2 separate regions of the Homo sapiens genome follow, and region 1 is linked to region 2. The links come from fine-mapping of genetic effects on gene expression. Tissue or cell type: whole blood. Region 2 holds a variant in brackets; the other region holds the start of a gene. All regions are shown on one strand. Distances are from middle to middle.

Region 1 (5,397 bases), 85 kb after region 2:
AATACAGAACTACTGAACTTTAGAACTTAAGATGCTTTTTATATCACTTTCATTCTTCTTTAAAATTAAAAATAATTTCTCAGTTTATTATCTACCCTGTCAACAAAAATAAGAAAATTTAAACTTAAGGTTTTCACCAAATTAAAAAAAAATGCAAATATCTATTAACAGCAATAGGCTTCCTGAAGTGTTGAAATTAAAATATGTCAAACTGTCCATATTTGAAAAAATACAATGTGAGGTGCCTAAGCAAACATCATTGCTTCCTTAAGAAAGAAGCCAGGCAACTGGCCTTGGCTTTGATGTCAAACCAAATTTAAATCCCAGTTTGGTTCTGTCACTTGCTACCCTTGTGACTCTGAGAAAGTGAGTCACCTTCTCTGAACTTGTTTCCTAATCTAGAATACAGGGGTACTTATTCTTCATAAGTTTTTACTGTACATTAAATAATGTAACATATATGCACCTGGCACATGATATAAATTTAGTAAAGGACAAAGCTAGAACTTTGACTAATAATAGTCACTAAGGACCCAGTGAAAAAAAATCACAAGGCTTAAAAAGAAAATGAACAAAAGCAAAACTGAAGAATGGAAAAATAAGGGATCAAATTATTTAAAGAAACTAGGTAAGGTTAGAAAATAGAGAAAGTTCAGTAGCCTTAAAATTCTTTTGAAAGCATTCAAAGTATGAATTGTAAGTGAAGAAATAACCAAGTACCCAAAAATCTTGAGATGAATTCCTCAGATCAAATTCCAAATACAAGTATCACTATAGGAACGTTTTATCTTAGTTATATGACATAAATTAGCAAGGGAGAAACAACTTCAAGGAACAAGCCAATTTTACATATATATGTGTATATATAGAGAGTCAATCATCATAATGTGTCCTACAGAAGACATGTCACACAACCTAAAAACAAAGAATATTAAGATTGTATACAAGCCTTAAATGTTATCTAGATATTAATAGTATCTAAATCATTAAAAAGTTACTAAGCATATGCAAAATTTCAAAAAAATTCTGATTCATGTGGTGCTGAATGGGGAAGGAAATAAAAATGGAAGAAGAAAAGTAAGTTTAATAAAGGTCTACAGACTAGGAGCTCTCTGAGGGCAGAATCTATTATTCTAGCTCCGAGAAACCTTGTAGGTAACACACAATGTTTATTAGTGAGGAAAACATGGATTGACAGCAAAGTGATAAAGAGCTGAATTATAATAAAATTGCACTACGGGTGTAATGTGCTGTCTAGGCATTAGAGATTAGAGGTTTCACATAAAACTTGCAACCAATAAACCTACAGGAAAGCAGAGAATGAAAATTCCAAAGACTTACCACAATCATTCTCCCATCTGATGTAATAACGGCAACAGTTCCTGATAACTGAATCAAAGAAAGTGTTTCTTAGGGAATGCAAATTGAAAACAGACTCTGGCAAGGGAATGATTTGAATTTTTAGAATAAATATGACAACTAGGTATAAGTATTCAACACAGCCACTAAGTTCACTACATAAAAACGTTAAAAGTTTCTTAGACGCCAAGGCAGGAGGATCACTTGAGGTGAGACCAGCTTGGGCAACACAGCGATACCCCCATCTCTATTACCCTGGCCTGGTGACCTATAGTCCCAGCTACTCAGGAGGCAGAGGCAGAGGCAGGAGGATTGCTTGGGCTCAGGAGTTCAAGGTTGCATTGAGCCATGATCAAGCCACTGCACTCCAGCCTGGGCAACAGAGTGAGACCCTCGACTCAAAAAAAGAAAAAAAAAAAAAAACTTAAAAAAAGCTTCTGTTTTTGTCTTTGTGATAATTACATGATTAAAAAAGGGAAAAAATAGAAAAAGAAAACCTCTTTCTGTATGTGATCGGTGTATCTTATCTCAAAATATCCTGGATTTTTGACACTTTTCTACTAGGAAGGTTACCAATCTATTATTTCAGGCAGGATATTTCGTTTCTTAGGCCTGTTTATTTCTAAAATGAAAAGTGGATGAGTACTAAATTAATCGATGTTGGACGATTTTCCAGCATGTTAAAAAACTGTCTTCCAGGACAGGCTTCTGTAATTCAAAAGTAAAGAAACTATATAAGCAGTGTCACAGGGTACCAATAACGCATCATTAAAAGCATTCGGTATTTAATTTTTGTCACCCAGTTTGTACCTGAGCTTAACGTAGTGTTTTTGTCCTAAGACTTTAAAACGGTAACACTTGTAAAGTCTATTTTAAGACTTCCCATGGGGTTGTTACTTGCTCCTCACTATAATCCATTACAACAGCAACCATTTTTTTTCATTCTACCAACAAGTTGGGACTTCAAGTGGTAAAGGGACAGAAACAGTCTGTGAACCATCGTTAAACTTTTTGCTATCCTCGAACGAGCAAATTATGTGAATAAAACAAGTACAAAGATTTGCAAAACTGTTGTCGCCGCCAGGACGACTGTTCATCTTATTCACAAACTTTAACACTTATGCCATAGGGAAATAGTAAGTAAGAATCAAGAGCGTACATTTTTTTTAAGACAGAAAAGTTCGGAATAATCACACTGGGTTTTTATTTGGGTTTTGCAGGCAAAATGGAAAGGACCCCTGGGCCCGCAGCAGCGGGAAGGCTCGAGGCGCCGCCGGCGAACTCTGGGTCGTTCCGGGGCCCTCATCTCCTCGCCCGCCCCCAGGATCCCGCCGAGGCCAGGCCTCCCAACCTCCCACCGATCCCCGACCGCGGCCTCTCCGCGACCCCGGCTCACGCCCGCGGCGGCCAGCTTGAGGATACGGTTGATGTAGTTCTCCAAAGCGGACGTCATGCTGTTCGGCCCGGCGGTTCCGGGTAACGCAGCGGTGCCGACAGCAAGCAGAACTGAAAGGGCGCGCCAGAACCCGGCAGCGGATAGCGCCTGCGGGTCGCAGCAAATATCGTGAGAGTTGCTGCTCCGCAGCCCTGTGAGTCGGAAATTGGGACGAACTGGCCAACCAAACAGAAGCCGCACAGCGGTGACGAGAGAGTGCGCGTGCGCAGTGTGTTTTCTCTGTAATTCTGGGCCGTGTTCCGGAAGCCTCGTAAGACAAAAGCGAACGAGAGGCGGAAAAAAGGAAGACGCTTCCTGAAGTTGGGGGTATGAGACAGAAGTTGGGGGTATGAGACAGAAGTTGGGGGAGAGTGGGTTTCCAATCCGAGTAAAAGGCAGTGTGGTGGAAGTTAACAAGAGAAAATGTTGAGACGAGGTAGAGCAGGCAGGAATAAACGAAGTAAGGTGTTTTTATTAGGAGTGAAGGAGAGAGACGAGTGCTGTTGTGTGAAACGTAGGTGCGGGTAGTTGAATCCCTAGTTTTCTGCAGCAGAAGCCGAAAATAACGCTAAAAATAAGTTCAGTTGCCCGGGACAGAGTTGCGCACGTTATAACCACACGGTGTACGCCTCTTAAGAACTCAGCAGTGAAATACACTTTCGTATGTTCTGCTTTTGTCTCTAAAAGTGTTCCAAAATGGAGGTGTTTTTACTTTTTAAAGAAACTAAATGCAAATAGGCAAAGGTGTGTGACCATCCCTTAGAAAACGAATGTCCACGCTTCTGCCACGCCAGGATGGTCTACCTTTCTTCAGGGTGAAATTAGTAAGTAAAAGGCTGCTGCAGCACCGAGAAAGGACCGATGCAGGAAGGATGCAGGAAGGCACCAAACTTGGTTCTAATCTTGGCTCTGCTAACAAATTGGTGTCATTGCACAGGTCACTTCAATTCTTCTGGGCCTCAGTTTCGTTAGATAGTCCCATAGGTATCATTTCAGATATTTCCCAATGCGATACTGTTCCCACTTCATTTACTGTTGCCCTAACTTGAGAGAGCTTGAAGTTAGAAAGAGATTTATACACAAAACACCAGCAGGAGCGATTTCCCTTTTTTGCAAAATATCTTTATAATTTCAGTTAAACATGTATTTTCTTAAGATTTGTGGCTTTGTAATAACTCTTGCAATGTCAGCAGTTTTCCTCGGAAAAGGAAGCATTTCTTAATTAGAGCATACCCACAAGATACTCCCAAATAGTTAATATTTTATATTCTGGAACTTATTCCTATCTGTTTGAAATCAAATGTAGTCAGGAATTAGATTGTGAATGTCTCATATTCTCAGGGTAACAAATGAAAGTGTCTTCCGCTAATGAAAGAACAAAGATAATTGTGTGATTTGCAAATGTTAGGTGTTGAACCAAAACCCAAAGACTAATTAATGATTAACGAGGTGTTAGGAGTTTTGTTAAAAAAAGAAATTGCTGGGCATGTTGGTGGGTTCCTGTAACCCCAGCTACTCTGGAGGGTGAGGCAGGAGAATTGCTTCAACCCGGGAGGCGGAGGTTACAGTGAGCTGAGATCACGCCATTCCACTCCAGCCTGGGCGACAAAAGCGAAACTCCATTTCAAAAACAAACAAACAAAAAAACCTCTGTGTGATCTTATAAAAATGAGGCCGGGTGCAGTTGCTAACATCTGTAATCCCAGCACTTTGGGAGGCCAAAGCGGGTGGATCACAAGGTCAAGAGATCAACACCATCCTGGCCAACGTGGTGAAACCCCCTCTCTACTAAAATACAAAGATTAGCCAGCATGGTGGCGGGCACCTGTAGTCCCATATACCAGGGAGGCAGAGGCAGGAGAACCACTAGAACCTGGGAGGTGAAGTTTGCGGTGAGCGAAGATTGTGCCACTGCATTCCAGCCTGGGCGACAGAGCGATACTCCATCTCAAAAAAAAAAAAAAAAAATGAATACTCCCTATGGCTTTTCATCCCTTAGAGTGTGCTTTTGTAAGTCTATTGCCCTGTGTAGTTGTCATTAAATTAATATGCCAGATAAATAACAGATGAACAGTGTTTATGGAGCATCACAAAATCTCTTTGGCTGGAAACTTTTTTACATGTGTCTTAAAATCGCTATATTTTCTGTAGTCTGTAAGGATCACAGATGTAGCGAGAAAACCTATGGATAAATAAAAGTCGGTTTACTAAGACAAAATGAATTACATCTGGATGCAAACATTACATATGTGATTTATCTATATTAGCCATGTACCCTTGGGAGTACATGAATGTAGAAACCTTAGCATCTCATAAAGAAGAATTACATTAAAGCTCCAATAAGGGAAAACTGATACACATAAACATCTGACTACTAAAAAATTAAGAGTTAACAGTGAAACTTGCCCCTTAAGTCGAAACCTCTCAAAGTAATGCTCATTTAAATGACATTATATCACTGATAAAGTATCAACCAAAGTATGCTTGTAATAGATAATTTTATTCCATTACTTCTGAATCTAAATCTTGAGCAGAAAACCTTAACCTAAAGGATCAGACTTCTAGTAGAATCCTAGGAAACTGAATTTGCGCTTCTCTGAATA
Region 2 (5,397 bases):
AAACCTAATGAGATAGCAACAGAGTAATAGTGGGGAACTTCAATACTCCACTGATAGCACTAGGCAGATCATCAAGACAGAAATTCAACAAAGAAACAATGGGTATAAACTACATCCCAGAACAAATGAACTTAACAGATGTTTACAAAACATTCTACCCAACAACTGCAGGATATACATTGTATTCATTAGCACATGGAATGTTCTCAAAGATAGACCAATGATAGGCCACAAGACAAGTCTCAATAAATTTAAGAAAATTGAAATTATATCAAGTACTCTCTCAGACCACATTGAAATAAAACTGGAAATCAATTCCAAAAGGAATCTTCAAAACCATGCAAATATATGGAAATTAAATAACCTGCTCCTGAATGACCATTTGGTCAACAATGAAATCAAGATGGAAATTGAAAAATTCTTTGAACTGAACGACTATAGTGAACAACCTATCTAAACCTCTGGAATACAGCAAAGGCGATGCTAAGAGGAAAGTTCATAGCGGTAAATACCTACACCAAAAAGTCTGAGGAAGCACATATAGACAATCTAACGTCATAACTCAAGGAACGAGAGAAACAAGAACAAACCAAACCCAAACCTAGCAGAAGAAAGGAACTAACCAAGATTGGAGCAGAACTAAATAAAATTGAAACCAAAAAGAAAATACAAAAGATAAATGAAACAAAAAGCTTTTTGTTCTTTGAAAAGATAAATAAAATTGATGGACCAATAGCAAGATTAACCAAGAAAAGAAGAGAAAATCCAAATAAGCTCAATTACAAATGAAACGGGAGATATTACAACTGACACCACAGAAATGTAAAAGATTATTCAAGGCTACTATGCCTCCACCCAAAAGCTACTTAAGCTGATAAGCAACTTCAGCAAAGTTTTAGGATACAAGATCAATGTGCAAAATTTGTTAGTATTCCTATACACCAGCAACAGATAAGCAGAGAGGCAAATCATGAACAAACTCCCATTCACAACTGCTACAAAGAGAATAAAATACCTAGTAATAGAGCTAACAAAAAAGTGAAAGACCTCTTCAAGAAGAACTAGAAACCACTGCTGAAAAAATTCAAAGAAGACAGACACAATCAAATGGAAAAGCATTCCATGCTCATGGATAGGAAGAATCAATATCGTGAAAATGGCCATACTGCCCAAAGTAATTTATAGATTCAATGCTATTACCATTAAACTACTATTGACATTCTTCTGAACTGGAAAAAAAGTATTTTAAAATTCATATAGAACCAAAAAAGAGCTCATATAGCCAAGAGAATCCAAAGCAAAAAGAACAAAGCTGCAGGCATCACACTACCTGACTTCACATTATACTACAAGGCTACAGTAACCAAAGCAGCATGGTATCAGTACAAAAACACATTGACCAATGGAACAGAATAGAGAACCCAAAAATAAGAGCACACAGCTGCAACCATCTGATCTTTGACAAACCTGACAAAAACAAGCAATGGGAAAAGGATTTCCTATTTAATAAATGGTGTTGGGAAAACTGGCTAGCCATATGCAAAAAGTTGAAACTGGACCCCTTCCTTACACCTGATACAAAAATTAACTCAAGATTGATTAAAGACTTATATGTAAAACCCAAAATTATAAAAACCCTAGAAGAAAACCTAGGCAATACCATTCAGGACGTAGGCATGGACAAAGACTTCACAACGAAAACGCCAAAAGCAATGGCAACAAAAGCTAAAATTGACAAATGGAATCTAATTAAACTAAAGAGTTTCTGCATCTCAAAAGAAGTTATCATCAAAGTGAACAGACAATTTACAAAATGGAAGAAAACTTTTGCAACCTATCCATCTAAAAAAGGTCTAATATCCAGAGTCTACAAGGAACTTAAATAAATTTACAAGAAAAAAAAATCATTAAAAAGTGGGCAAAGGACATGAACAGACACTTCTCAAGAGAAGACATTCACACGGCCAATAATCATATGGAAAACAGCTCAACATCACTGATCATC[G/A]GAGAAATGTAAATCAAAACCACAATGAGATACCATCTCATACCAGTCAGAATGGTGATTAGTAAAAAATCAAGAAACAACAAATGCTGGCAAGGATGTATAGAAAAAGGTACACTTTTGCACTGTTGGTGGGAATATAAATTAGTTCAACCATCGTGGAAGATGGAGTGGCGATTCATCAAAGATCTAGAAGCAGAAATATATTTGACCCAGCAATCCCATTACTGGGTATATACCCAAAGGAACATAAATCATTCTATTATAAAGATACATGTATATGTATGTTCATTGCAGCACTCTTCACAATAGCAAAGACATGAAATCAACCCAAATGTCCATCAGTGACAGACCAGATAAAGAAAATGTGGTAAGTATACACCATCAATATTATGCATTCATAAAAAGGAATGAGATCATGTCCTTTGCAGGGACATGGGTGGAGCCGGAGGCCATTATCCTCAGCAAACTAGCACAGGAATGGAAAACCAAACACTAAATGTTCTCACTTATAAGTGGGAGCTGAACAATGAGAATACATGGACACATGGTAGGAAACAACACACACTGGGGCCTGTTGGGGGCTGCAGGGAAAGGGAGAACATCAGGAAGAATATCTAATGGAGGCTGGGCTTAATATCTAGGTGATGGGTTGATCTGTGCAGCAAACCACCATGGCACACGTTTACCTAGGTAACAAACCTGCATATCCTGCGCCTGTACCCTGGAAATTAAAATAAAAGTTGAAGCAAAGTAAATAAATAAATACATAGTTAAACTCCAGATTAGAAGAATTTATTTGCAAAATGAAAATATGACAAAGGGCTAATATATAGGATATATAAAGAATTCTCATAGCACAATAATGAAAGTAAATACATAAAAACATAAAATATATAAATAGCTCACAAAAGAAAACATATAAATGGCCAATGAGTGGATGAAAAAGTGATCACTACCATTAGTCATCAGGGAAATACAAGTAGAACCACTATTGGAAGCCTCTACAAGAACAAACCTCTACACGAAAAAAAACACAAGAACGGCTAAAATTAAAAATATAGACAATACTAACTGATGGTGAGGATGTGGAGCAACTGAAATTTTCATACATGGTTGGTAGGAATATAAAAAGGTAAAAACACACAGTTTCTTATTTAAAAATCAAAACAGCCTTGAACAGATACGATCATAGCAGTTTATTCATTATACCTGAAAACTAGAAACTTCTCAGATCTTAATCGGAGAACAGATAAAATGTGGTAAATTCTATAGTGCAATACTATTCAACAAGACAAAGAAAATAAGTATTAACACATACAACATTGATGAATCTCAAAGCAGTATGTGGAGTGAAAGTAGCTTTACCCAAAACAGTAAATACCACAATTCAATTTATGTAAAATCCTAGAAAAGGCAAAACTACTCCAGCCAGAAAAAAAAAAAAAAAATTGGTGGAGAAGGGGGATTGAATGGGAAAGCAAATGAAGGAATCCTTCTGAGCAAAGTTCTGTATCTTGATAGGGTTTTGAGTTACACAGTTACATGTATTTGTGCGTACTCATCTCATAGTATACTTAAGATTTGGACATTTCGTTTTATATAAATCTCACCTTAAAATATATAAACGTAAATATAAAAGTCTAGTTAATATGTGCTCTTAAATATTTGAGAGAAATTAGTTGAGAGGAAATACTGATGTTTGTAACTTACTTTGAAATGCATTAATAGAAAGGACTGATGGGTGGATATAGGGCTGTATAGATGGGTAAGTATGTGATAATGCAATATATAGAATAGAAAAGCCTAGGTAGAGGGTAAATATAAATTCATTCAAATTTTCTTAATGTTTGAAAATTTTTTTCAAAAATAATGAGATAAAAAAGGCACTTACAGAAAATGTGATTTTTACGTGATTTTAAAATGTTTCAGTATGACATTTTAAAGGTGATGGGGATTTGGTCATAAATTTAGAAGAACTTAGGTTTCAGTGCCAACTCAACTACCTTCCATCTGTAATTTTATATGCAAGTTACTTTGCCTTCCTCAGCTGTGGTTTTCTATTCTATAAAATGAAGATACTAACACTTGAGCAACAGAGTTGTAAAGATATTTACCTAGGAGAGAATACTAGCCCTTTGATAACTACAGATTCCTCATCATTCCTCAGTGTTTCTTATAAAATGCCATTCCAGGGAACACCATGCCCATGGGAAAGATTTTTGTTGTGAGTTACAATATTTGACCTTGTGGACTTCTAATAATCTCTTTCAACTCTAGGATTTCATGTTTGGACATGTCAGTGAGTCCTAAGTGAATTTCTTACATTTTTATATAGGGTCTCTACATTTATTTTTCTTAAGATATGGGCATTTCATTGTATACAAATATTACCTTAAAATAAATATGAAACTCTAGTTAACAATATGCATGCTTTAAGTATTCGAATATAAGCACTACTTACCAGGACATTATTGAATTTAATGTTATATACCCATTCCACTTCCTAATGATATGAAATGCTGCACACTGCTTTAAAAATCTGCAGTGAAATTGCATCAGCCCCAAAAGAACGAAGTAAATATACTTATTAATCTTATACTTAATTTATAAACTTTCTTCTCAAGGCTATTTAAGCTATCAAAGGCACTTTGAGGAAAATATCATTGATAGAATGGAGGAAGCTTAAGCTCTGGAAAATGAATCCACCTATAAATCTCCACAACAAGAAAAAAACTCTAAGATTTATTGGCTGGTAAAAGGAAAAAAAAAATGTTATCAGGTCCAAAATGAATGTTTACATATATATATATATGTGTGTGTGTGTGTGTGTATATATATACATATATATGTATGTATATATATACATATGTATATGTATGTATATATATACATATGTATATGTATGTATATACATACATATGTATATATGTGTATATATGTATATACCATACATACATATACCATACATATACCATATCTGTATATATGTATATATGTATGTATATATATACATATGTATATGTATGTATATATATGTGTATATGTATGTATATATATACATATGTATATGTATGTATATATATACATATGTATATGTATGTATATATGTATGTGTATATATACATACATATATATGTATGTATAGTTTTTTTCATTCACCACAAAAACTTGACTCTGACACAGAAATGATTGCTCAAAACTCCTTTGAATGAGCTTACATGAGAAATACTCACTTCAGGCTTCACCATCATCATGGCTACCATCAATTATAGCTCATTACACTGACTCTAAAGAGAAAGAGCCTGGCTTGGAACACCAATGCAGCTGGGAAACACTGTGAAGATTTGGCATGCAGAACACAGACGTAATTTTTGCTGCTTTCTATCAGAAGA

What was found. PIP is the estimated chance that this variant, and not a neighbour inherited with it, causes the effect.
Region 1: it holds the start of LSM8, and the variant in region 2 is fine-mapped to the expression of LSM8 in whole blood (TOPMed, PIP 0.99).

The regions. Positions count from the first base shown.
Region 1 is chr7:118,181,639-118,187,035 of GRCh38, reverse strand. LSM8 (LSM8 homolog, U6 small nuclear RNA associated) reads right to left here and starts at 2,872. Exons shown (of 4, transcript NM_016200.5): 1 at 2,782-2,872; 2 at 1,342-1,382. The coding sequence starts at 2,812. LOC105375470 (a long non-coding RNA gene) reads left to right here and starts at 3,068. Exons shown (of 4, transcript XR_927904.3): 1 at 3,068-3,121.
Region 2 is chr7:118,266,222-118,271,618 of GRCh38, reverse strand. The region is part of intron 1 of LOC102724495 (a long non-coding RNA gene); the gene reads right to left. Among named protein-coding and RNA genes, the nearest start is that of ANKRD7, 44 kb to the right of the region's middle. The variant G/A (reference allele first, on the strand shown) is at 2,006.